5 separate regions of the Homo sapiens genome follow, and regions 1, 2, 4 and 5 are each linked to region 3. The links come from fine-mapping of genetic effects on gene expression. A gene starts in region 3. Each other region holds a variant in brackets. All regions are shown on one strand. Distances are between the middles of the regions. Region 1 overlaps SIRPB1 (signal regulatory protein beta 1). Region 2 overlaps SIRPB1 (signal regulatory protein beta 1). Region 3 holds the start of SIRPB1 (signal regulatory protein beta 1). Region 4 holds the start of SIRPD (signal regulatory protein delta). Region 5 overlaps LOC105372499 (a long non-coding RNA gene).

What was found.
Region 1: its variant is fine-mapped to the expression of SIRPB1 in memory regulatory T cells (Schmiedel 2018, PIP 0.92).
Region 2: its variant is fine-mapped to the expression of SIRPB1 in whole blood (TOPMed, PIP above 0.99).
Region 4: its variant is fine-mapped to the expression of SIRPB1 in whole blood (INTERVAL, PIP above 0.99).
Region 5: its variant is fine-mapped to the expression of SIRPB1 in whole blood (INTERVAL, PIP above 0.99).

Annotation. Positions count from the first base shown.
Region 1 is chr20:1,568,587-1,573,471 of GRCh38, forward strand. SIRPB1 (signal regulatory protein beta 1) reads right to left here. Exons shown (of 6, transcript NM_006065.5): 3 at 3,134-3,451; 4 at 2,219-2,551. Among named protein-coding and RNA genes, the nearest start is that of SIRPD, 13 kb to the left of the region's middle. The variant C/T (reference allele first, on the strand shown) is at 2,253.
Region 2 is chr20:1,563,065-1,567,949 of GRCh38, forward strand. It overlaps SIRPB1 (signal regulatory protein beta 1), which reads right to left. Exons shown (of 6, transcript NM_006065.5): 5 at 3,089-3,203; 6 at 1-2,433. The coding sequence ends at 3,091. Among named protein-coding and RNA genes, the nearest start is that of SIRPD, 7.8 kb to the left of the region's middle. The variant C/T (reference allele first, on the strand shown) is at 3,059.
Region 3 is chr20:1,617,403-1,622,287 of GRCh38, forward strand. SIRPB1 (signal regulatory protein beta 1) reads right to left here and starts at 2,607. Exons shown (of 6, transcript NM_006065.5): 1 at 2,467-2,607. The coding sequence starts at 2,542.
Region 4 is chr20:1,556,613-1,561,497 of GRCh38, forward strand. SIRPD (signal regulatory protein delta) reads right to left here and starts at 1,093. Exons shown (of 4, transcript NM_178460.3): 1 at 969-1,093. The coding sequence starts at 1,041. LOC107985409 (a long non-coding RNA gene) reads left to right here and starts at 1,395. Exons shown (of 3, transcript XR_007067493.1): 1 at 1,395-1,512; 2 at 3,933-4,053; 3 at 4,840-4,885. It overlaps SIRPB1 (signal regulatory protein beta 1), which reads right to left. Exons shown (of 6, transcript NM_006065.5): 6 at 4,773-4,885. The variant C/T (reference allele first, on the strand shown) is at 1,907.
Region 5 is chr20:1,525,190-1,530,074 of GRCh38, forward strand. All of the region lies in intron 2 of LOC105372499 (a long non-coding RNA gene), which reads left to right. It also overlaps the pseudogene RNU6-917P. Among named protein-coding and RNA genes, the nearest start is that of SIRPD, 30 kb to the right of the region's middle. The variant C/T (reference allele first, on the strand shown) is at 2,306.

The DNA.
Region 1 (4,885 bases), 49 kb before region 3:
GAACTTCCAAGGTGGAAGAGCGAGGTAAGAACCTGAGGACTGAGGAACAGCCCAGCAGCCAAACAGCAGGGACTCTATGCCCAAATACCAGCCCCCAGCCACAGAAAGTGATGAAGGGAGGACATAGAAAAGAGGAGGTCTCAAGTCAATAAATATAAATCCCGCACTTAAAGAAACTACAAAAAGTAGGGCAAAGTAAACCCAAAGAAAGCAGGAGATAGGAATTAATTTAAAAAAAAAAAGAGAGAAGAGAGCAGATAATTAATGAAACTGAAAACACAAAAACAATACAAAAACCCATTGAAACAAAGAGTCAATCTTTTGAAAACACCAATAAAATGGGAAAAAACTCTAGCATGACTGATGAAAAAGAAAAGAGAAATGACACATTTTTAGTATCAGGATGAAACGTGGGATACCATTGCAGACCCTGCAGACACCAAAAGGGTTATGAGAGGATATTATGAACAACTCTACACACATAAATATGACAACTTAGATGAAATGGACCAAAAGTTATGCAAAACACAACTTACCAGGGCTCACTCAATAGGAAACGAAAAATGTGAATAACCCTAAACTATTAACGACATTGAATCTATGATTATAAAATATCCAAAAATATCCCTGGGGCCCAGATCTTTCAAAGGAAAACACAAGCATTTAAAGATAAATTAAAACCAAATTTAACACACAGGAAAATGGTTCTAAAAAATTTGGTAAAATGTGAATGTATGCTCCATTTTAGATGATATGAGGAAATTATTTTAATAACTTTATGAAATTTAGTGATTTGAACACTTAAAATTTAAGTGGACAATGACACTGGTTTTGTGAAAAATGTCCTTGATCACATGATCCCTCAATGTGCAACTGCAGGTGCATGCGTGAGCAAGTTTTCAGTGGACGTGACTATGCACCTTCCACACATCTCTGATGATTGGGGACATTGTTTGTCTTCTATTTCGTGTCTTTCCTCTTCTGGCAGGCAGGGACATGAACAAATCCGTGACTCAGCACTGACCCAGGAGATGACGCAAACATCATAGGGTGTTTTGGAAGGAACCTGAGTCCTTATTCTTATTTCCTGGAGCCTCAGGGCAGAAAGAATAGAAGATTGGGCCCCAGCCATCATTAGAAGAGTAGCAGAATCACAAAGGATGTTGAATGTCAGCTTTAATGGCTTCTATGCTGGGGTTGGGCCCTGATGGGGAAGTTGTGGGACCCTGAGATGTGGGAGGATGTATTCGGGTCAAAGCACTCAAAGATTGTCTTTCGACTGGAGTAGAGGGACCCCTCCTGGTATTAAAAGAGAGGGAAATAAGACATATTTTGGTTATAGAGAGGGGGAACACTGGCCAAATTTGGGTCCTTGGGACAAAGCGCAGCAGAAAGGGAAAGTTTCTCTAATTAGCACAAATTCCCATTATAGCCTGGTAGTGAGCCTGTCCTCAGGGACTAGATTTACCTTCATTACTTTGGACCAATAACCTGGTCTAATGACAAGAAGTCTTCAACAACATCCCTCATTACTTCCTAAGTCCTGGTTTCCCCTTTGGTAAAACTCCAAGCTCACTGGGTGTTTGAAGCAGGAAAGGAGATCAGAGATGAACAGAAATTTGCATATAGTAAATGTGCAGAGTGGTTGTGATTATTGTTGGTCAAATATCACCATCAGAACACAAAAGAAGCCTGTGCTGTGACCAGGTCACCTGGGGGTCTGTCCAGGCTTAAACTTCACTTGTCTTTCTGAAATTTATAGAGCAGATGCTGGAGACTGGTGGCTGAGGTCACAGATGCGGATGGAAAAGTTTAGGATAGAATAGGGACAAGGTAGAGGTTAGAAAGTGTAAAAGGCAAGGTGCTGTGCTGGCGAGAAATGCAGAAGAAGGCGAGACACAGGACTTCATAAACAAACGGATCACCTCCCTCTCTCTTTTTTCCTTTAATGTATATTTATGTCAAAATATCTATCAAGTTGTGCATCAGACTTGACGCACAGTTTCTCCTGGTAGATGGGGCTTAAGGGTGTCTACAAATGGCCAATTGTTACCTTGAACCTTCTAAGTAGTGGTGACCCATGGAGTGTAGGATTTTAATGTAGACGTTAAAATTCTACTTTATATTTATAGACTTCTAGCTTATTTTATGACAAGCATGAATATTGCTTTTAACATTAAAGAAAAAGACAAAATTTAAAAATGGGAAGTAACCGCACCATGGGTGATATCTGAGCCGTGCTCCTTCTGGTG[C/T]GCTGAGATCTCCAGGGCATAGCTTTTGCTGACTGCTTGCTGCCCATCATGCTCCACCTGACAGGTGAGCACCACATCGTCCCTGTGGGCACAGGTGTTCACCAGGAGCCAGCTCATCCAGTTGTAGGTGCCATCCTTGTTCTCTATGAGGGTCGAAGCTGTTTCTGTCCGGGACACATTTCCATTCTCCAACCAGGTCAGCTGTAGTCCCCGGGGGTAGAAATTGCTCACCTGGCAGGTGACGTTTGCCTGGTTCTCTGCCCTCATGGGCTGTTGAGTAACCTCCAAGGTGGGTGGAACTGAAACAGCACAGGGCAGAAGCTCTGATCTTGTGGCACAGACAGATCACAGGGAGGGCTAAATAACGTAGCTCCCACCAACACAGTGAGGGCATCACCAGGACAGTGCTAGGCAGGCAGCAGGTGCTCAGACATTGAGGGCACTCGTTGCATATGAGTGAAATTACTAAGCACAGTGCCTGGCGCACAGTAGGTGCCCAAGGACTGTTAGCTGCTGCTAGGCTAAGGATGAGTGAAATCTACAAGCACAACCCCTGGCATGCAGTTGGAATGTAAGAACTGTAGCAAAATCAGTGAAATCGCCGAGCACATAGTGATTTGGCTCCTAGTAGGTGCTCACTAATTGTAGTTGCTCTTGGTGAAATAAATGAAACTCTGTAGCCCAGAGCTTGGCACATGGTTGCTGGTCCCCTGACAGCTGCCATTAAAATGATAGTAAGTGACCGGCTCACCTAGGTGCATGGGAGGTGGACAACACAGTTAGGAATTAGATTCCAGGCCTTTCAAGCTCTGGAGCCTGGGGAGAGGGGAGTGGGCTTGGCAGCCAGGTGTGGGCTTGGGCTGGGTGTGAGGGTCTTCTACCTCGGATGGCCTCAGACAAGTTGGCAGTCCCACGAAGAGGGTCCCCCTGCAAGGTGATGTGGGCTATCTCGCAGATGACTTGAGAGTGAACGTCCCCACGGGTCAGCACCACCCTGGCTGTGCTGTGGATGCTGTAGGACACACTGTCTCCTGCGGGGTCCACGTTGGTCTGGAAGTCTGAGAGCTCATTCCCATTTTTGAACCATTTCAGGGTGATGTCTCTGGGAGAGAAGCCATGGGACTCGCAGGTGAAGCTCACTGTGTGCTCAGGTGTGGCCCTCACCGCAGGGCCCGATACCACGGGGGCAGAGGGTTTGGCTACAAAAGGACCATCGATAATCAGGAGACATGACTCAGATGACCATCACTGATGATAAGCGTTTGACATGTTAAGAACCTTCTGAGACGTTAGTTTTTAATCTTTCTAATAATGTCGTGAAGGCAGTGTCCTTATTCTCATTTTACAGATCAGGACACAACAGCTCTTAGAGGTGAGAACCAGGCCATGGTCAGACAGTGAGTAGGGGCAGGGCCCAGAGGGAAGTCCAGGCCTGAGTTCAAAGTCCTCTCCACACAGGGAGACTTCCACCAATCTGGGCATAGGAACAAAATTACTGATTGGTCTCCCTCCATGTTATTAACTGGTCCTAGCTGTCCTCCCCCGGAAGGCTCACTAACCTCAGAGAGGGCATTTATAGAAGCCAATACAGGGATCAATGGCAAAGTGGCACCACCGTGAGAGCTGCAACCAGGCTGCTCAGCCCAGGACAGGGGTGGGCTGACAACCCCAGCTCCTCATCCGCAAAACAGGAGGACGGAGGACGGCGTTTCTACTTCCTGGGATGTCGCCAGGATTCAATGGGGCAATGGAAGCAGTTTTGCTCTGGATCAAACACAGAAGATGCTTCCCCCAAAAAACACAGATCTATCTTTAACCCAGACTTTACAGATACACAGAGGTCTCTCTTTAGGTATTATAAAAATATGAAACATTCCGTATTTTTCTTTTCACAAATATTTCGTTCTGTCAAATAAAAGGCATTAATTAAGGATAAAGCTTTAACGTAGAGCCAAGAGTTTGTAAGAGCATTGGAATCACACCTGCTAAAGGTCAAGCCACAGGATGTTGCAGTAGATAGACCTGGATAACAACTGAAGCCAGGGTCCGTGGGATTTTGATCTCTTTCACCTGGAGTACTTTAATGAAATAACCAATGAGAGTGGGTTTGCAGTTGAGGATTTTCAACCAGCTAATGAACTGTTTCCAAAAACAACCTTTTGTGAAAATCCCCTATAAAAAACCTGTCCTGTATTGCCATACGGGACACTATTCAGGGTTTCACTGACTCAGTGTACCCAAATTGCACCTCTTTATCTTTCAGATAAATGCTATTTCCTTTGGCCTTCCTAACAATCATTTTGCTGTTGTTGTTAGTTGTTCTAATCTGCTGGAAGTCCTAAATTTGAAAAGAGGAAATTTTTGGGAATCTGAATCTTCAGTTAGGACAGGTTTGGGTGAAAAACAAGGATCACTGAGTACTAAGAAAGCCAAAGGTGGTTAGCTTTTTCATCGTTAATTAATTACAAGAGACAAAGACCCAGGCCACACCAACAGACAGAAACCTATTCTGGGCCTTGAAAGCAAACACATTGGAGAATCAGAACAACGAGTGCAGTTTCTCCATGTAGATGAATTTTAAGGGTGTCTGCAAATTGCTAATTGTTACCTTGAACCTTCTGCCGTCCTCTTAG
Region 2 (4,885 bases), 54 kb before region 3:
GGTTGAAATGCCAGCAAAAAACTTCACATGAAAGGATCTTCTGGAGTGATTCCACAATATTGAAAATTCAAGGGATAAGATGTTGGAAGCTAGTCCAAACTTAGAAAGATGGCAAAACACCAAGGTATAATAGAAATGATGCTTGCTGGCTAGGCATGGTGGCTCATGCCTGTAATCCCAGCACTTTGGGAGGCCAAGACAGGTGGATCACCTGAGGTCGGGAGTTCAAGACTAGTCTGATCAACATGGAGAAACCCCATCTCTACTAAAAATACAAAATTAGCTGGGTGTGGTGGTACATGCCTGTAATCCCAGCTACTCAGGAGGCTGAGGCAGGAGAATCACTTGAACCCTGGAGGCGGGGGTTGCAGTGAGCCAAGATCACGACATTGCACTCCAGCCTGGGCAATAAGGGTGAAACTCCATCTCAAAAAAATAAAAATAAAATAAACAAATGAAAAGAAACAATGCTTGCTCCGTGTATTAGCCCATTCTCACACTGCTATAAAGAACTACCAGAAACTGGATATTTTATGAATAAAAGAGGTTTAATTGGACTCACAGTTCCACAGGCTTAACAGGAAGCATGACTGGGAGGCCTCAGGAAACTTACAACCATGGTGGAAGGAGAAAAGGAAGCAGGCACCTTCTTCACATGGTGGCAGGAGGGAGAGAGAGAGAGAGAGCGAAGGGGGACTTGCCACACACTTTCAAAAAACCAGATCTCATGAGAACTCACTGAGATCTTATGAGAACTCACTATCACAAGAACAGCAAGGGGGAAGTCCGCCCCCATGATTCAGTCACCTCCTACCAGGCCCATCCCACAACACATGCAGATTACAATTTAAGATGAGATTTGGATGGAGACACAGAGCCAAACTATATCACTCCATATTAGAAATATACAAAAAAAGGCAAGCACTCTTCCAACTACTCTGGATACATTTTTACAAAGAAACAGCACTTGAACTCTCAATGTTTCTAATGCTTTGAATTGTAGTGCACAAATAAATATTTATTTCATTATATTTTCATTGTCCTCTACATTTGTAACTGAGAGTGTGAGAGTTTCTAATATTTTGACAAAAAATGGTAAAGGTCACAGAATGATCATTGTTTTTCTGATTGACTATGGAGACTGCTTTCCTGGGTTTCAGGTTGCACAGTCATTTTTGCAATCTTGCACTGCCATGAAAAGTGAGGGCTGCCTGTATTCGGCATAATACTCATCAAAATAAGGGCTAAAGAAAAATTAATTAGGATAAGAGAAATTAGAATGCCGGGATAGAGAAAATAAATAATATTTTATACAAGGTAGTTTATAGAAGGTGCCTTTAATGAAGTGACATTGAGCAGAGACTTGAAGGAGGGAGAGCGGGAGCCATGCAGCTGTGTTGGGGAAGAAGCAGAGAAGTGATATGATTTGACTTTTCCAAAGAATCACTGTGGCTGAAAAATGAAAGCCAGAGGAGTGGTCCCCAAAGAGATGATGCTGGCTGGGACAGGGAGGGGTGGTGGAGGTGAGAGGTGTGGAGAATAGGGATTTAACTCTGAGGTTTCCAGCAGCAGGCTTGGACTGGGCCCTGAAAACCAATTGTTAAATTTCAGGAATCTTGCAATCTGGTTGTTTAACTGTTGGCAGTGTGAAATTGGTCAGGTTGGGAGTTATTACACTAGAGAAATTGGCAAGCACTGCAAAACAGCTTTTGGTTTTTCCCTTTCAGAAAGTCCATTGTTAAACATTTACCATCTCATGTAAGTGGACACATGCATTTTGGAGGCAGAACTGAATATGAGTTGTAAAGGGCAGTCATCGAGGGCTCCTCAATGTTGGGCTGTGGCAGCATTTCTACCACAAGCAGCAGGACTGGGAAGGCTGCAGGATACTAGAAGAAATACTGTCTCCATCACAGAGAGAGAAGGGAGAGCTTCTTTCTTTTTGGGTTTGAGGGATAGGATGCTTGGACAAAGAGGAAAGAGAATCATTTTTTTCTTAAAATTGGTATAGGGGTTCATGTGTATTCAGGAGGCAGTAGAGAACCTCAACAAGGCTGGGGGAGTTGGGGTAGGCAGGAATCCAGAAGACAGGATAACTCTTGAGAGCCTGGAGAGAGTCTGTGGTTTATGGCCAGTCCCAAGGCGACGGATGGGAGAAGTCCTGGTGTGTTTAGATTTGGAGTGTTTCTCACCTTCTAGGGAGGTGCCATGAGTCAGTGCCCAGAGCCCAATCCCATGGCCCCTGCTCAGGACCGTGAATAGAGACACTGCTTTGGGGCATCATGGTCTTGTGAAGGTGGAACAGGAGCGTGTGGGCAGGCAGATGACCTGGGAGAGGAGGCGTTTGGAGCTGAGTGTGGGGAAGGTTCTCGCCAGCTCCTTCTCTCAGGCTGAGCTTCTCAAGAAAGGAGGAGGCAGCAGAGACTGAGGGTCCTACATGGCAGGGAAGGAAGGAAGGAGCTGTTGGAAAACACATCCACATTCATTCATCTGCTCATCATTTAAGAAATGTTTCCTGAGAGCCTGATATGTCCCTAGTGCTGGTCTCCTCTTGGGATGCCTGTTATGGGTGGACAGGCAGACCTGAGATAGGACTCTGCCAGCTCAGCACTTCTTCCAAGTCCTGATGCTCCCTCTTCCCCGCTTTCCACTCAAGCACACAGAAGGTCAGAGCAGGAACAGCCCTCAGAGCAGCCTATCTGGGAATTCTCAACACTACGGTGGGGATTACTTTGAACCCATGGAGTCCCAGCAGTGGCCTCCAAGGGACCACCCACTCAGTTGGCCCTCACTTAGACCCCTCTGTCCACCTTTTCCATGGGACTCCTAGGCCACTGGGGACAACTTTGAACCCCCTTGAAGCATCCCACCTCCTGTAATACCCTTGACCATCCCAACTCCTGCACACTCCCTGGGGGTTGGGAGCCCCATACAGGGTTCCCTGAGACTCCTGAGTATCCTGAGGGAGCCCTGTCACCTTCTGTAAACTCCACTGACCCTGAAGCTGCATGGCATGTGAGCTGGGCCCTCCTGCTGGCCTTGCCTTTCTGGAGGAGCC[C/T]TTGGTCAGTCCTCCCTCTCCTAAACTTACAGTCAGGCCTTCTGTTTCCAGCAGATGTAGATGGCAGAGACACCAACCACCAGTAGCAGCTTGGGGCCCAGGAGGAGAGCTACGAGGAGTGGAGCAGTAGGAGCCAGCGCTGCTTCTGGAAATCAGGGAAGAGGAGGAGCCATGAGAGGGGCCACCTGGGAGCTCATCCCAGGGGCCTCCACTTACCCCATCTGAGGCTACCTGGGCCCATCAATCCTCTGAAGCTTTTGAACTTGCATCCTGCTCTGGCTTTCCTGACTCCAGCCGAAAGCAAAGGCCAGGGAAAGTGGCTCCTCATTCTCACTCACCCTGTCCCAGGCTGCCAGTTTATCCTCCTGGAGGGAAAAGGTGGAGAGAGTGTGTGCTCAGGTATTCATATATGTGGCAACTGGGTTCCTCACTTGATCCTCACACGCCCATGGGGCAGGGATTATTATTCCATTCTGATGGGGAAACTGAGGCCAGAGAGTTTAGGGAGTGTCAGGAGATTAGTAGGATCCAAACCTAGGGAAGCCCATCATTATGTCCCCAAGGGTGACTCCTGAGTCCAAGACAAGTCCAACACTCCAGGATCATGAGAATGATTAGTAAAGGGTGGGCAGGTGGTGTGAGGATGGATTCAGAGTGAGAGAGTTGCATGCTGCCCTTCTTAGCCCCAGGGGCAGGGAGAGGACCCCATATTCTCATGATCTCAGGGAGCCCTCCAGGGACAAGACCCAATTAAACCTGCTGGCTGGAAAATTCCCTGGTGAGTCAGGGAATGTGCCTCGGGCTTGGAAGGGCCTCAGACATCATCTCTCCTACCTCAACCCCAGTGCAGATGTCATCTGAAATCTTTCTGTTGGACACAGAGAGTCAGATCTACGGAAGCTCATGTTGGGACTGTTTGCATTTTTTAAATAAGGGGTTTTGGATGTTAAAAGTAACAAAGGTATTAAAAAAAATTTTTTTTAAAATAAAATGGTGCTGGTGGGTCCTTAAGGAAGGAATGGAGACCTCAGCATCTATAGCCGCTGGAGTGTTGGAGTGTTGCAGGCCGGCAGTTCTCAGATGGGTGGCTCTCTGGGGCTTTCTCTCCTTTGAGGAGAGCTGCACTGCCCAAGTTTATTCCTTCTAAGGGGCAGCCCACATGAGAGATAGACTGCATTGGGAATATGAAGGGCCAGCCCTTCCCCTCAATTTGAAAAAAATCTACAGGACCCTCCGGCCTTTTGCCTCTCTGCAAGAGCAGCTGCATCTTTGTACTGCCTGCACTGTGGCTCAGCACCTCCCTCCTCCTACACTCCTGCCTCCTCATTCCTGAGGCATGTTGACCCTGACAGCACTCTAGGATGCCTCCTGCATTGCTTTATGCATCCTCAGGTGGCCTCCCAGAGAAACTGTCCTTGGGAAGTGGTCTGGAAAGAAGACTCTAAAATATAAGTTGGGAATCTGATTACTCATCAGCTAGCAATGAGGACCCCAGGGCTGGTGGTGAATGGGACTGGAGAAGCCGTGACTTGCTGTTGTGTTGCGATTGATAACACTTTCACTGGCACTAAACTGGGATAGTGTTACCACAGGAAGGAAATTCCTTGCCATTAGCCTTTTGAAAACAGATTGGGAAATGGTCGTTATAAGAACTAAGGTGTTAGCTGTTGCTGGGCATGAACTCTTGGGAGGAAGGCAATGAGAAACTAAGAGTGATTCATCATGAGTTAAAGTTCAGCTGGAAGCCAGAGGACTTCTTGGCAGCACTGCAGATTCTTATTTCTTGGAGCCACAGGGCAGAAGGAATAGAGAATTGGGTCCTGGGCA
Region 3 (4,885 bases):
AAGATATTATGCTAAGTAAAATAAGCCAGGCACAGAAAGACAATACTGCATAATGTCTCTCATATGTGGAATTTTAAAAAGTTGAACTCATAGAAGTAGATAGTAGAATATTGGTTACCAGGCACTAGGCAGGGGGTGCATTTGGAGAGATATTGGTCAAAGGATACAAAATTTCAGTTTAGTTAGGAGAAATTAGTTCCACAAATCTATTGTACAATATGGGGTCTAGAGTTCATAACACAATTCGTAACCTCAAAAATTGTTGAAAGCAGATTTTGAGAGATCTCACCACAGAAATGATACATATACAAGGTAGGTCATATGTTAATTAGCTCAAATTAGGCATTCTGCAATGTACACATATTTCATTAATATGGTATACATGATAAGTATATACAGTTCTGTCAAATAAAAATAAAATATTTTGTTAAAAGTTTCATTGAAATTAGAAACTTGGAGAAACAATGATAAAAAATGAAATCTCCTGTGTGTGCATGTACACTTACTTATATGCATACATGCATATACATATGTATACACACATATGTATACACACATTTGCAAATATATATACACACACATATATGTATATATACACACACACACATATATATGTATATATAGACACACACATATACATTCACAAATATATATCAAAGTGTGACCTATTGTGATAGTATATAAGTTTGTTTTGTGTATTAAATAAAATTACAACACACGTTAAAATCTCATTAAAATATCTGGCCCATAGAAAGTAAAATATGTGGCCCATAGAAAGCATCCAACACATTAATAACAAATTTAGAAGTACATACATCACAGTTGTAACTCTGGTTGTTGCTAACAAGTGTGGTAGGCAATAATTAATTCTATGTTTACTTCCCTGCATTTTCTAATATTTCTGCTAGTAGCATAACACGACTAAAAGAATGAACTTTGGAGCCGGTCGACCTGGACTTGAATCTCAGCTGCTCCACTGACTGAGGTAGGGGACAATGAATGGACAAGTTCCTCCCTCTGCCTGAGTCTTTGTTTGGAAATAGGGGATAATAGTTGCAGCTTTCACACAGGGATGTTGTGAGGATTAGTGGAGCTAAAACAGGCAAAATGCTAATAACTGTGTCTACATGGTAGGAAGAGCTCAATTGTTAAACTCTTACTGCTGTCATTTGGGTACAGTGTATGTGTGAGAAAAATAATTTGAAAAGTGAGACCCCTGCCCTCTAGGGCCTGTGAGGTGACATCACAGCAGGGCCCAGTGGGGAATTGAGAGGCTGCTGTGCCCAGCCCTGTGGTTCTGGGGTCAGCTCCATGGCCTGAGAAGGGATCAGGACAGGTAACTTGTCTGGGAGCTGTGAGCAGGGTTCTCCCAGGCTGCACCAGGAAAGGCCCTCCAATCCTGCCTGTCTTGGGAAGGGGAAAGAAATTATCCATGGGAAATTTAAGAGAACCAAAGGAGGTTGTAGTACCTGTTATGGGCTGAATGTGTCCCACAAAATGCATGTGTTGAAGCTCTAATCCCCAGCACCTCTGAACGTTACAGTTTGGGAGACAGGGTCTTTAAGAAGTAATTTAGTTAAATGAGGTCATTGGGGTGGGCCTTAATACAACAAGACTGATATTCTCATAAGAAGAGGAGATGAGGACACAGACACACACAGAGGAAGATCATGTGTTTAAGACACAGAGAGAAAATGGCCCTGTATAAGCCAAGGAGAGAGACTTCAGTAGAAACTAACCCTGCTGACACCTTGATCTTGGACTTCAGCCTCCTTAACTGCAAGGAAGTAAATATCTGTAGTTTCAGCCACCCAGCCTGCAGTTCTTTGTTATGGAAGCCCTAGGAAAGGAATATAGGACCCAGTAAGCAGCAAATGTGGAACTTCTTAAAGAGGAAGAGGCCACAGAGAAATGGGTGGTAAGAATCAGGTCACAGGGGAGGGAGGAGCATGGGGGAACAGAGGACAAAGTGAGGAGCACCCTTAGGGAGGATGGTGGCTGAACACTCCCAGGATACACCACACCACTGCCCTACTCAAGTGAGCACTATTACAGACTTCACATCCTCAGTTTGGTGAAGAGAGAGGGCTGGGCCTAGAGCCACATAACCCTGTTAGGGTGTCTCTGAGCTTACTCTGTGGACTTGGGCATGTCACTTGGCCCTAGGGCCTCAGGACTGGTGAGGATTTAGATAATGATTCTTCTCTGCTTTTTCAATTGAAATATTATCAAAATGTAAGTAATTGTTGTTGTGGTGGTTGAATCGTCCTGTGGTTCAATGCCTCTGGTAGCCAGCTGCAGATCCACAGAGAAAGTGCTCAGCTCCCTGATTTTCTGCTCTCAGTCAAAGCCTAATCCTTGGCCTTTCTTGGCAGCACTTGTCATTGTCCGGAATCCCTGAAAGTCCAGGGACAGGCCATGGCTCAGTGGGCAGGAAAAAAGATTTTAACCGAAGGCAGTGCTCACCTGTGAGTCTCCCCAGCAGTAGCGTCATCAGCAGGAAAGGACTAGGAAGGTGGGGCCAGGAGGCTGGCACGGGCATTCTGGAGACCTTAGGAGCCTGCTCTGTCCAAACGTCTGTGCTGGGAAGATCGCAGACTCTGCTCTGAGGAGAGAAGACAAGCCCTGCCTCCCTTAGTTCAAGAGGAAGTGGCTGCGATGGAGTGAAGCAGTAACCTGCTTCTGGATTGTGAAACAGAAATCAGGAACAGCAAGCAGCTACAATGCAAGCAGTTATGCATGCCCCATTTCAGGAGAATCAGACAGGCTTAGCAGAAATAATGCTTCCTTCCCACCTGAGGTCTTAACTCCTTCCATGACTCCTAACCCCATCTTTATGTCTTCTTGGTGATTTGCCATTTGGTGCTCTTAAGCCAGGAAGGACCTGTGGTTATGAAATGTTTCCTAAACTTTCCATCTCAAGACCTCAGGATGTGGTTGGCTTGTGGTCTCATTCTACAACAGCCTCAACCAAGTGCTACTCAGTTGGGGCAGGATGAGGGATCACTGGACCTGCTCAGTGTTGGAGAGGAACAGGTCTGCTCTTGAAATGGTTCCCTATTCCGAACTTTTATAAATATAAATGGCAAAACTTAGCCCAAATTCAGTCTCATGTGGCCGTTAGCACTTTCATATGCCTGCACCCAGCAGAAGGAATTATTTCCTGACTTCTTCCAGGAGAGGAAGTGGGCTTAGGGTAATAAGGATCTGCTTTGTGAGGTGAGGTGGGGATTATGGGTTATGGAAAGGGGATATGTTTATTATGGGGGAGAATATGGAGGGCAGATTCCTGGAGCAGTCACATCGATTTCAATACTCTTTGCTCTGCACATAGAACACCTATTCCATTCATCACTGTCTTCAGATGGGAACTGAGGAGGGAGGGAGAATAAATACCCTAAGAAGATGTGCTAAGGAGTTGGGGAAGTTACTGGGCCTGCCTAGGTTCAGTTTTGCCTTCTAACCTTGGGATAATAAGTCTCACTGCCATGTTTTAGTGAACATCAAAAGAGATAATGACTATACATCCCTGAGATTCAGTAGGTTATTATTGATACTCATGGTGCCAGGTGAAGAGAGGGAACTCAAATATTGCTTTTAAATGGATTTCTACTGCATGCTGAGTTTCCCACCAGTGGCCTTCTCCCATGTTCCCCGGACTTCTGGAACCCAGCTTTTATGGTGTACTTGGTCTACCTCTGACACTCTGAGATCAATTTCTCCCTCTGGATCCTCTTCACCCTGCTTTTTGTCAATCTGTAGATGAATTCCTTTTCTTACAATCTCCAGCTGTGTGACTTTCAACAAGACACTTGACTTCTCTAAGCCTTAACTTAATTACATGTAAATGGAAGTTATAACATGCACCTTGTAGTGATATGGTAAGAGTAATATAAGCCATACAGAAGGTTTGATTCATATTTAATTATAACCAAAAAATTGTGGCTATAATTACATTTGTGTACAGGGTGAGTTCACTGCTTCCCTGACATACTTGTGCTTTAGAAAAATTTCCTTGGTAGGAGAAATGGTTTCTCCTCCATCATCTGTGACTAAGAAAGACCTGTCTGGAAACCTCTCTTTCCCATGCTGGGCTTGCAATCCTTCACCTATCATGAGTAATTGTCAAATGAAATTGTAAAAGTCATCACATTTCCATGCAAATTTCTTTTTCAATGTGGCAGATGCACAGAGGGTGAAATCATCACCTCCTGCTCCACACTCACAGAAATGAATATAAAAATGATAAAATCATGTTAATCGATGCCAAATTACACTTTAAAACAAGAAACTAGTCTCTATATGACATGAAGGGTAGTAGCTGCTGTGTTTACTGCAGATGTCCTGTGCTCCAGGTACTGTGCCAAGCATTTTGTCAGTTACCTCATTAATTCATCACTCTGGTCCCATGAAATTAGCACTACCATTAACCTTTTTTTATAGGTGAGGAAACTTGAGGCACGCAGGCAATAATACATTTGTTCAACATCACCCAGCTTTTAGAACTAGAACACAGGTTGTCACACTCCATGGCCTTCACTATGACACCTCTCATAAGAAGGGAGAGATATCTCTCAGGAAGGAAGCAGAGAAGAAGCCATAACGTCAATTAGGCGCAGCCTCCACAGCAAGGTTGGGATAGGTGCCATGTTCCATAAAGTGCTGACAGCCCATGATCACTCAGGGCATTATTCCTGTAAAGATTACAGTGAAAGCAGTAATCACTAAAGATTTGGGGAAAAGCGACATCATAATAAATTCAAAAACAATAACTAAAAAACAAAAACAGCAATGAAAATAACATCTTAGAAAATAATACCTCAGAAAATAAAAATATAAAATGTGAAAATATTTTTAACATTAACATATTTAGTAACCTTATAGA
Region 4 (4,885 bases), 61 kb before region 3:
ATATGGTGGATGTTTTTATAGGAAGTGGAAATTTGGACACAGAGACAGACATACATGGGAGTAAGATGATGTGAGGATACAGGGAGGGTGGTGCCACCTGCCATCCAACAAATGTTTGAGGCTACCACTGCTAGAAGCTCAGAGACAGACATGGAACAGATTCAACCTCACAGTCCTCAGAAAGAACCAACCCTGCCCACACTTCGATTTTGAATATCTAGTCTCCAGACCTGTGAGAAAATTAATTTCTGTAATTTAAACCACCCAGTTTGCAGTACTTTTTAAGAGCAGCCAAATGCAGTGGCAACAGAGAAATAAAAAACTGAATTTCACAGAAAGAAGTGTAAAATCTGCCAGGGGCCAGGTGTGGTGGCTCACGCCTATAATGCGAGCACTTTGGGAGGCCGAGGCAGGTGGAACTCTTGAGCTCATAAGTTTGAGACCAGCCTGGGCAACATGGTGAAACCCCATCTCTACAAAAAAGACAAAAATTAGCTGGGCATGGTGGCGCGTGCTTGTAGTCCCAGCTACTTGGGAGTTGGAGGCACGAGAATCACTTGAGCCCAGGAGGTGGAAGTTGTAGTGAGCCAAGATCGCACCACTGCACTCCAGCCTAGGTGACAGAGTGAGACCCTGTCTCAAAAAAATAAGTAAAGGTAAAAATAAAATAAAATAAATTACACCCTCCAGAGGCTGGAGGGTGAGAGCTGTGATGGATGCTGTGCCCCGCCCTGTGACCATAGGTGTGAGTCGTTTACCTGAGCAAAGAGATTTGCAACAGACATGGCCACCGGGAGACTTTGTCAGAATTGGGGACCATCCCAGTGTAGTCTTCTGAGTTCTGCCTGTTCTGGGATAAGATGGAGAAAACCCTCCCAAAAGAAATTCTATGGGAACAGGTGAGGGAGAGTTCACTAAACAGGCAGAGGGGAGAACCCACCACACACATACACTGAGGCCCCACTCACCTGCCAGTTCAAGCAGCAGATACAGCAGTAAGGAAGGCAGAGGTGGGTGGAGTGGGGAGGCAGGGATGGGCATTGTGGTGAAACCTGGAGCTTGCTCTGCCTGAATGCCTGTCCTGGAGATGCCCTCGACTCAGTGCTCCGAGCAGAGAAGACAGTTCTTGCCTCTGTGATGTCAGAGGAAGGGGATTGTGATGAGAGGAAAGGCCAGGGGACTGGGACACTTTTTCCTTTGTGATTATAAAATTGAACAGACAAGGTTGCTTCAAGCTAGGAAGTTGCTGCTGGAAGTATTTAGCTTTGCTGGGGCTGGGGGGCTTGACACCCACAGCCTTATACTCCTTCCTGAGTTTCATCCCATCTCACAGGTTCTCCCCAACTTCATGGCCTTTGCCTATCTAGGAGCCTCAGACACATAGGCTAGACAAAGGCCTCATCCACATGATGCGCAGGTATGGGTCTAGCTCCTGCATGAGCTCAACATCTGGGCCTGTCTGAGCTGCACAGCTGAAGAAAGAGACAAGATGTCTATAGCCTCACCCACTTGGTAAGAGTTGGACTTTACAATGGATGCCCTTTCTTGCACTCCAGAGTAGTTAGAGGTAAAAAACAAGCAATATCTGCTGTGGGCTCTTGGCTTTTCTGTGGGTCCCTCCATACACTACCAGGAACTGCTTCCTTTTTCCTTCCTGCAGAGGAATCAGGCATGGCTGAGAAAGACATTCGAGTTGTGCAGGTGGTGATGATTTGTGCTTTAGAGGATGGAGGAGGCCTGCAGGGAAGGCGGAGCTGCGGGGAACACTCTCTAGGAGGGAGAGTAACATGCCTACAAACACCTGGGAAGGTGAGGGCTGCCTCTCCTGCTTGGGCTGGACCTGGGACCAGCTCTCAGAGATGGGATTGGAGGGGCAGAAGAAATGCCCCCAGAAAGAGGGAGGAAG[C/T]AGCATGTTGGCATCCTTCTCTCTCAGCTCTGGAATGGGTTCTTCCTAAGCACAAATGTTGTGTTCAGGGACACTCAGCCCACACTCAGCTGGTGACCCTTTAATGTCCAAGCATCCACAGGCAGGCACTGGCTGCCATGGCTGTTTCCCCATTGCCTCCTCATGACTTCTGCCTCCTCCTCAGGAACCAGCTAGATGTCAGGGCCGGGAGAGGTGTTAGACCCTCTAGGAAAAGAAAGCAGAGCCAGGCTGGCACGTTCTCTCTGAGACGACAAGAGTCCCCATCCCCTTGTGATGTCATCATCCTATCCCGTTGTTCTGAAATGATGAATTCCACAAAGGAATTCCTATCCATGGCCCCTGCTTGGAACTAGACAGGAACATTCCTCCAGCCTCCATCATCCTCCCCTTCCCCTACTCTGAGGAATCTTCTCACCTTTCATTAGACTCTAAGTTCCTTGGAGAGTCAGTACTCACGGGTCAGTATCCAAGAGTGCCAGCTTTGGAATCAGATATAATCTAGGCTAGAATCCTGAACGCACCTCCTAAGAGCTGAGTAATCTTGGGCCCATGATACAGACCTGTATATTCTGCAACCTTCTTGACATCTTCATTTGTATATATATATATATATGTATTTTTTTTTTCGAGACAGAGTTTCGCTCTTGTTGCCCAGGCTGGAGTGCAATGGTATGACCTCGGCTCACTGCAACCTCTGCCTCCCGAGTTCAAGTGATTCTCCTGCCTCAGCCTCCCGAGTAGCTGAGACTACAGGCGCCCACCACCACGCCTGGCTAATTTTTGTATTTTTAATAGAGACAGGGTTTCACCATATTGGTTAGGCTGGTCTCGAACTTCTGACCTCAGATGATCCACCTGCCTCAGCCTCCCAAAGTGCTGGGATTTCAGGTGTGAGCCACTGAGCCTGGCCTCTTTGTATACCTTAAATATTCAAGTTTGAGTTTCAGATCTGCACTCACAAACCTTATCTTCTCCCACACCATGCCTGTTTTGTATATGGTACCATCATCTAAGCAGTTTGTCAAACCAGGAAGGGACTCATGTTCTATACCCTCACTTATCCACTTGTTACCAAGTGAAAGGGGGTTGCTGCCTGATGTGCTAGAAGCCAATACTGTGACACCAGGCTTTTGAGAAAAGAAAAGCTTTTTATTGCAAGTTGACTAACAGGAAGACAGAAGTCTACCTCAAATCTAGCTCCATGTGCTGGCTTCAAGGCAGTAGTTTTATTAGCAAAAGTTTAGGGGTTGGATTCTGGGATTAGTATGTGATTTGTGAAAGGAAAGGGGAGGTCTGGAAAGTCCTTGGGCATGTACAGTTATCTCTCTATGCCTCTTCACGGCTCCCATGTGCAAAACCCTGGGGCGTCATCATGAAATACGTGGTAGAAACTCAGGCTGTGACATCAGCAAGCTCATTCTGAGCAAACTCCAGTTGGCCATATTGGTTCCAACAGATTTTAGTCAGTTTTGTTATCCTACAAGTGGAGGAAGTTTCGGCAGTTTAGCAATTTTTTTTTTTTCTTATCTGCTATCCTGTAAACTCAAGAATTTCTTAGTGACTGGTTTCTTTAACTCTTTGGGGGCATAGTTTCACACTCCTATCTTGCCCCTACCAGGCCCTATTGGATTTACCTCCTAAATCCCTTCTGAATTAATCTCTTTCTCCATCTCTATCATCATCTCTTGCCTGAATAAGAACAATTGCCTTCTCACTAGGGTACCCCCATTTTTATTTGCCCCCTATAATCTCTTTCTCCTTCTTCAGCCAGACTGGTCTTTTTACAACATAGATTTAATTATGTCCCTCTCTTGAATAAACATTTTTGTGGATTCTCATTAATCTGGAGGTACTATAAACAAGGCTTTCTTCTGTGACTGACTTGCTCCCTTAGAGATGAAGGGATCCCCACCTTTCTGATACGTAGCATAGCTTCACTGTCCCAGGTTGGGTTCCCTGGGAGACAGACTCTGGGGTGAAGATGAACAAGCAGGTTATCTTTCAGGGAGTACTTTTAGGATCAACACTTGTGGACGGGAGAAGATGGAAGCAGGACTGGGTAGAAGAAGAAGCTGGGCTGCAATGAAGTCCCATTGAAGACCTCAGCTGACCTTGCATGGAGCCTGGTACTAGGATATTCCTCCAGAGTTGCTCTGAGTTAGGATAAGAGAGCTGGGCCTTTATACGACTAGGTTGATGAGTCCAATGAGATGTGGTTTGTTACCAGATACGACCTAAGCAAGGGCACTCCCTTCAGCTGAGACAATCGCAAATAGAGCTGATGCTGAGGACCATCTCCACAGCCAGGTGCCTCTCAGCATCCATTACACAATTCATGGGAACAACTTGTTCCTGTGAAGACTTGGGCTCAGGACATTATTCACTCACTCATAGTCAGGTCCTCAAAGCTATCCCAGCTCACCCACATAACCCAAAGTTTTCTGATCCCACTTGGTCTGACCTGGATTTTACTAATGGGAAAAGTTTAGGGTGAGCATCACGGGGGATTGAGAAGCCACTTCCTCTGGGATCTGAGTGCCTAGATCTGGGGTGAGCTCTGGTAGTGGACAGAGGAAGGACGAGAGGAAAGGAAACCTCAGGCTTTTGAAGTGAGATAAAACTTTGGAATATCAACAAAGTCTCCCTACCGCACATTTCCTTGCATTGTTCCCCACGGGGTACAAGAGGCAAATAAAACCTAGCTGAGGACAAGACGTTAATTTTTTCTAATAGACTTAATTTTTTAAGGACAGCTTTAGATTTACAGAAAAATTGAGCCCTATCATTAGCATCTTACATTGATATGATACATTATTATAATCAATGAACCAATATTGATACATTATGATTAATCAAAGTTCATAGTTTATTTAGATCTTTTCTTTTTACCTAATGTCGTTTTTCTCTTCCAGCATCCCATCCAGGATACCTGTTACATTTACTTGTCATATCTCCTCA
Region 5 (4,885 bases), 92 kb before region 3:
CCTCCTTACGCCCTTTTAAAGTCACATAATACCCAGTGTGCGGCTGTACCATAATTTAGTAGGCAGCTCAGCTTTTGCTCTTACCAATAGTGTTGTGATGAAGAGCCTAAGGATAAGTCATCCTGCACTTGTGTTAGTAGATCTTTGGGATACATTTCTGGAAGTTGAATTGTTGGGTCACGAGGTAATTTTGCTAGATATTGCCAAGTTCACCTCTTTATGAGTTATATGGTTTTGCATTCCTAACAGCAAAATATGGAGTAATTGTTTCGCCTTAGCTTCCCCAACAGAACGTGCTGTTGAACTTTTGGATTTTTGGTCAAGCAGATAGGTGAGAAACCGTGTCTCAGTGTAGTTTTTAATTTGCATTTCTTCCTATACAAGGGTGGTTGAGCGTATTTTTATATGTTTGAAACATTTGTATTTCATTTTCTATAACTTGTCTTTTCCCATTTATTGCCCATAATTCTAAAAGGTTGACTGTCTTCTAAAATTTTAGAAGCTTTCTCTATATTAGGGATTATTTTTTGTCTACGATGTAAATCGCAAAATAGTACACACACCTATACACAAGTTTCTTTTTGTACAATGCGATCAAAATTATAATCTTTTAAATCTTTCTGCATTTTGAGTTACAGTTGGGAAGGTTTTCTCCATTTCTAGGTTATAAAAGAATATATATATATATATGTTTTCTTCTAGTACTTAAATAGTTTCGTTTCTTACATTTAAATCTCTGATCCACTTGGAATTTATTTTGGTGTATGGTGGGAGGAACTAGATAGATACACTTCTGGATTTTTCTATGCTGTTCCATTGGTCTATTAACTCTTCAAATGATCCAACACCACAGTTGAAAAGTCTCTTCTTTTTCCACTGACTTGCCTTCATACTTTTTTTTTAAGCAATCAATTGACCATATGTATGAGTCTATTTCTAGAATCTCTATTCTGTTCCATTGATCCACTTGTCTTTTTTTTCTTTTCTTTTTTTATTTTTTAATTTATTTTATTTTATTATTATTATACTTTAAGTTTTAGGGTACATGTGCACAATGTGCAGGTTTGTTACATATGTATACATGTGCCATGTTGGTGTGCTGCACCCATTAACTCATCATTTAGCATTAGGTATATCTCCTAATGCTATCCCTCCCCCCCACTTGTCTATCTTGATGCCAATACCACACTGTATGATTACTATAGCTCTATAATAATTTTCTGTTCATGAGGGATATTGATCTATAGTTTTGCTTTTCTATGATTCTTTATCTGTAATGCTGGCCTCACAGAATGGGAAGCCTCACTTCCTCTTTAATTTTCTGAAATAATTTGAGTAAAATTGTTAGTACTTCTTCCTCAATTGTTTGATAGAATTCCTCAGTGAAGTCATCTGGGTCTGAATTATTCTTTGTCAGAGGCTTTTTAAACTACAAATTTAATTTCTTTAATAGATATAGCGATAATTAGCCTATTTATTTCTTCTTGAGTGAGCTTTAGCAGTCTATGTCTTTCAAAGAATTTGTCCATTTCATCAAAGTTGTTAAGTTTATTGGTATAAAGTTTTTCATAAAGTTCCATTATAATCTTTTTAATATCTGTGGAGTCTGTAGTAGTGTCACCTCTCTCATTATTGATATTGGTAATTTGTATCTTCTTTCTTTTTTCCTGATTAACTGTGTGGATATGGATTTATTAATTTTATGAATTTTCTCAAGGAACCAGCTTTTGCTCTTATTGATTTTTTCTATATTTTTTCATTTTATGTTTCTGATTTCTGCTGTGTTCCTTATTATTTCCTTTCTTCATTTTTTCCTACTTTTTGAAGTCTCTGAAAAAAACCTTTCTTCTGTCCTAATATAGGGATTTAGTGCTATGAATTTCCTGCTAAGTACTCTTTTGGCTGCATGCCACAAATTTGGTATGCTATGCTTTCATTTTCATTCAGTTAAAAATATTTTCTAAGCCAGGAGTGGTGGCTCATGCCTGTAACCCCAGCATTTTGGGAGGCTGAAGCAGGCAGATCACTTGAGCTCAGGAGTTTGAGATCAACCTGGGCAACACAGCAAAACTCAGTCTCTACAAAAAAATACAAAAATTAGCTGGGCAGGGTGGAGTGCACCTGTAGTCCCAGCTACTCAGGAGGCTTAGGTGGGAGGATCACCCAAGCCCGAGAGGTTGAGACTACAGTGAGCCGTGATTGTGCCACTGCACTCCAGCCTGTGGGACAGAGTGAGACCCTGTCTCAAATAAATAAATAAATACATACATACATACATATACAAAATACTTTCTAATTTTTCTTC[C/T]GATTTCTTTTTCAATAATGTATTATTCAGAAGTATATTTAGTTTTAAAATGTTTGGAGATTTTCTAGAGATGTTTGCTTTTTAAATTTAATTTCTATGACTACTGAGGGTTAAATTAAATAAAATTAAAAATAAATAAATAAATTTAATTCCATTGTGGTCAGAAAACACACTTCTCATGACTTGATTTATTTCAAACTTACTGAGACTTATTTATGGCTGAGAATACAATCTATGTTGGTAAATGTTTCTTTTGTAGTTAAAAAGAATGTGTATTCTCTTGTTTTGGGATGGAGCATTCTATAAGTATCAGTTAGCTCAAGTTGGCTTATAGTGCTGTTCAAGTCTTCTACATCTTTACTGATTTTCTGCCTCCTTTTTTTACCAATTATTGAAAGAGAGGTTTTGAGATCTGACTATAATTGTAGATTTTTCTATATATTCTTGCAATTCCATGAGTTTTGTTTTATGTATTTTGAAACTCTATTATTATATGCATCAACATTTAGAATTGGTATATTTTATTAATTGATAAGCTTATTATAAATGATATTCTATGTTCTCATAATTTCTTTGTTCTAAATACACTTTGATATTAATGTAGGCATTCCATATTTAAAAAATTATTGTTGATGTTGCATATATTTTTCTGTCCTTTTATTTTTAATCTATTTGTGCCTTTATTTTTGAAGAGAATCAATTCTCTGCAGGCAGCAAATAGTGGATCCTACTTTAAAAAATATAATGCAAAAATCACTTTATTTTAATTGGTGTGTTTAAACCATTTACATTTAATATGATTATTTATATGACTAGGTCTAAATCTATGATCTTGCTACTTACTAGCCTCATCTCTTTTCCAGTGTACCTCATTTTCTGTCTTCTTTTGGATTGATTTTTATGATTCTGATTTATGTCTTTTGTCAGTTTATTAGCTATTACTCTTTGTTGTGTTATTTTACTGGTTGTTTTGGGATTTCTGGCATACATTATTAACTCATCATTATTTACCATGAGTGATAAGGTATCACTTCACACATAGCATAAAATTCTTACAGTAATATATTTCTGTGTCTCTCTTCCTGGTCTTTGTGCTATTTTTCTCACACATTTTACTTCCATGTATGTTATAATTTGTCAAATATATTATTATTGTATTTGCTTTGAACAGCTATGTTTTAAGTACATTTAAATATACTTTTAAAATATTTTCCCACATTGTTACTATTTCTCTTGCTTTTAATTTCTTTGTATATATCCAGGTTTCCATCTGGTATCATTTCACTACTGTTGGAAGGACTTCTTTTTAACATTTCTTGTAGTGCAGATCTGTTGATGATGAATTCTTTCAGCTTTTGTATGATTGATAAAATCTTTATTCTTCACTTCAAAAATTGTGGTAAAGTACACATAAGATCTGCCATCTTAACCATTTTTTAGTGTACAGTTCAGTGGCATTGAGTACACATTTAGAGTACAGTTTCAGTGGCATGAGTCACATTGTTGTGCAACCATCACCACTATACATCTCTAGAATGCTTTCCATCTAGCAAAACTGGGAAAATATATGGAATGCATCACAAATTTGCATTCCATCCGTGTACACAGGCCATACTAATCTCTGTATCATTTCACTCTTAGTATCTGTGCTGCCAAAGTGAGTACTTAACTCCAGCCTGGATGGCAGAGCAAGACTGGCTCAAAAAATAGATAAATAAATTAAATGCTTAATTTTATGTATTTATTTTAAAAGATATTTTTGCTAGGTAAAAATTCTAGAATGACTAATTAATTATTGTTTTCTTTTTAAAAATGCTTTAAATAGCCAGGCATCGTGGGGCATGCCTGTAATCCCAGCATTTTGGGAGGCCGAGGAGGGTGGATCACCTGAGGTCAGGAGTTCGAGACCAGCTTGGTCAATATGGTGAAACCTTGTCTCTACTAAAAGTACGAAAATTAGCCAGGCATGATGGCAGGTGCCTGTAATCCCAGCTACTCGGGAGGGTGAGGCAGGAGAATTGCTTGAATCTGGGAGGCGGAGGTTGCAGTGAGTCGAGATCGCGCCGCTGCACTCCAGTCTGGGTGATGAGGGTGAAACTCTGTCTCAAAAAAAAAAGAAAAAAAGCTTTAAAGATGTATCCCCACTGTCTTAAGCTTGCATTATTTTTGATGAAAAGTCTCCTGTATTTTTTGTTCTTTTGTATTTAATATTTCTTTTTGGGGGGCTGCTTTTAAGATATTTTCTTTATTGGTTTGTGCAACTTGGTTTGTGCTTGGGGTTCATCGAGTTTTTGGATCTGTGGGTCTACAGTTTTCATCATATTTGGAACATATGTGACCATTATTTCTTCAAATATTCTTTCTGTCCCCTCTTCCACTGGTGTCTCCAATACATATCTATTAGGCCACTTGAAATTTCCCCATAGCTGCTGATTGATGCTCTGTTTATCTTTTTTTTTTGAGATGGAGTCTCGCTCTGTCGCCCAGGCTGGAGTGCAGTGGTGCCATCTCGGCTCACTGCAAGCTCCACCTCCTGGGTTCACGCCATTCTCCTGCCTCAGCCTCCCAAGTAGCTGGGAC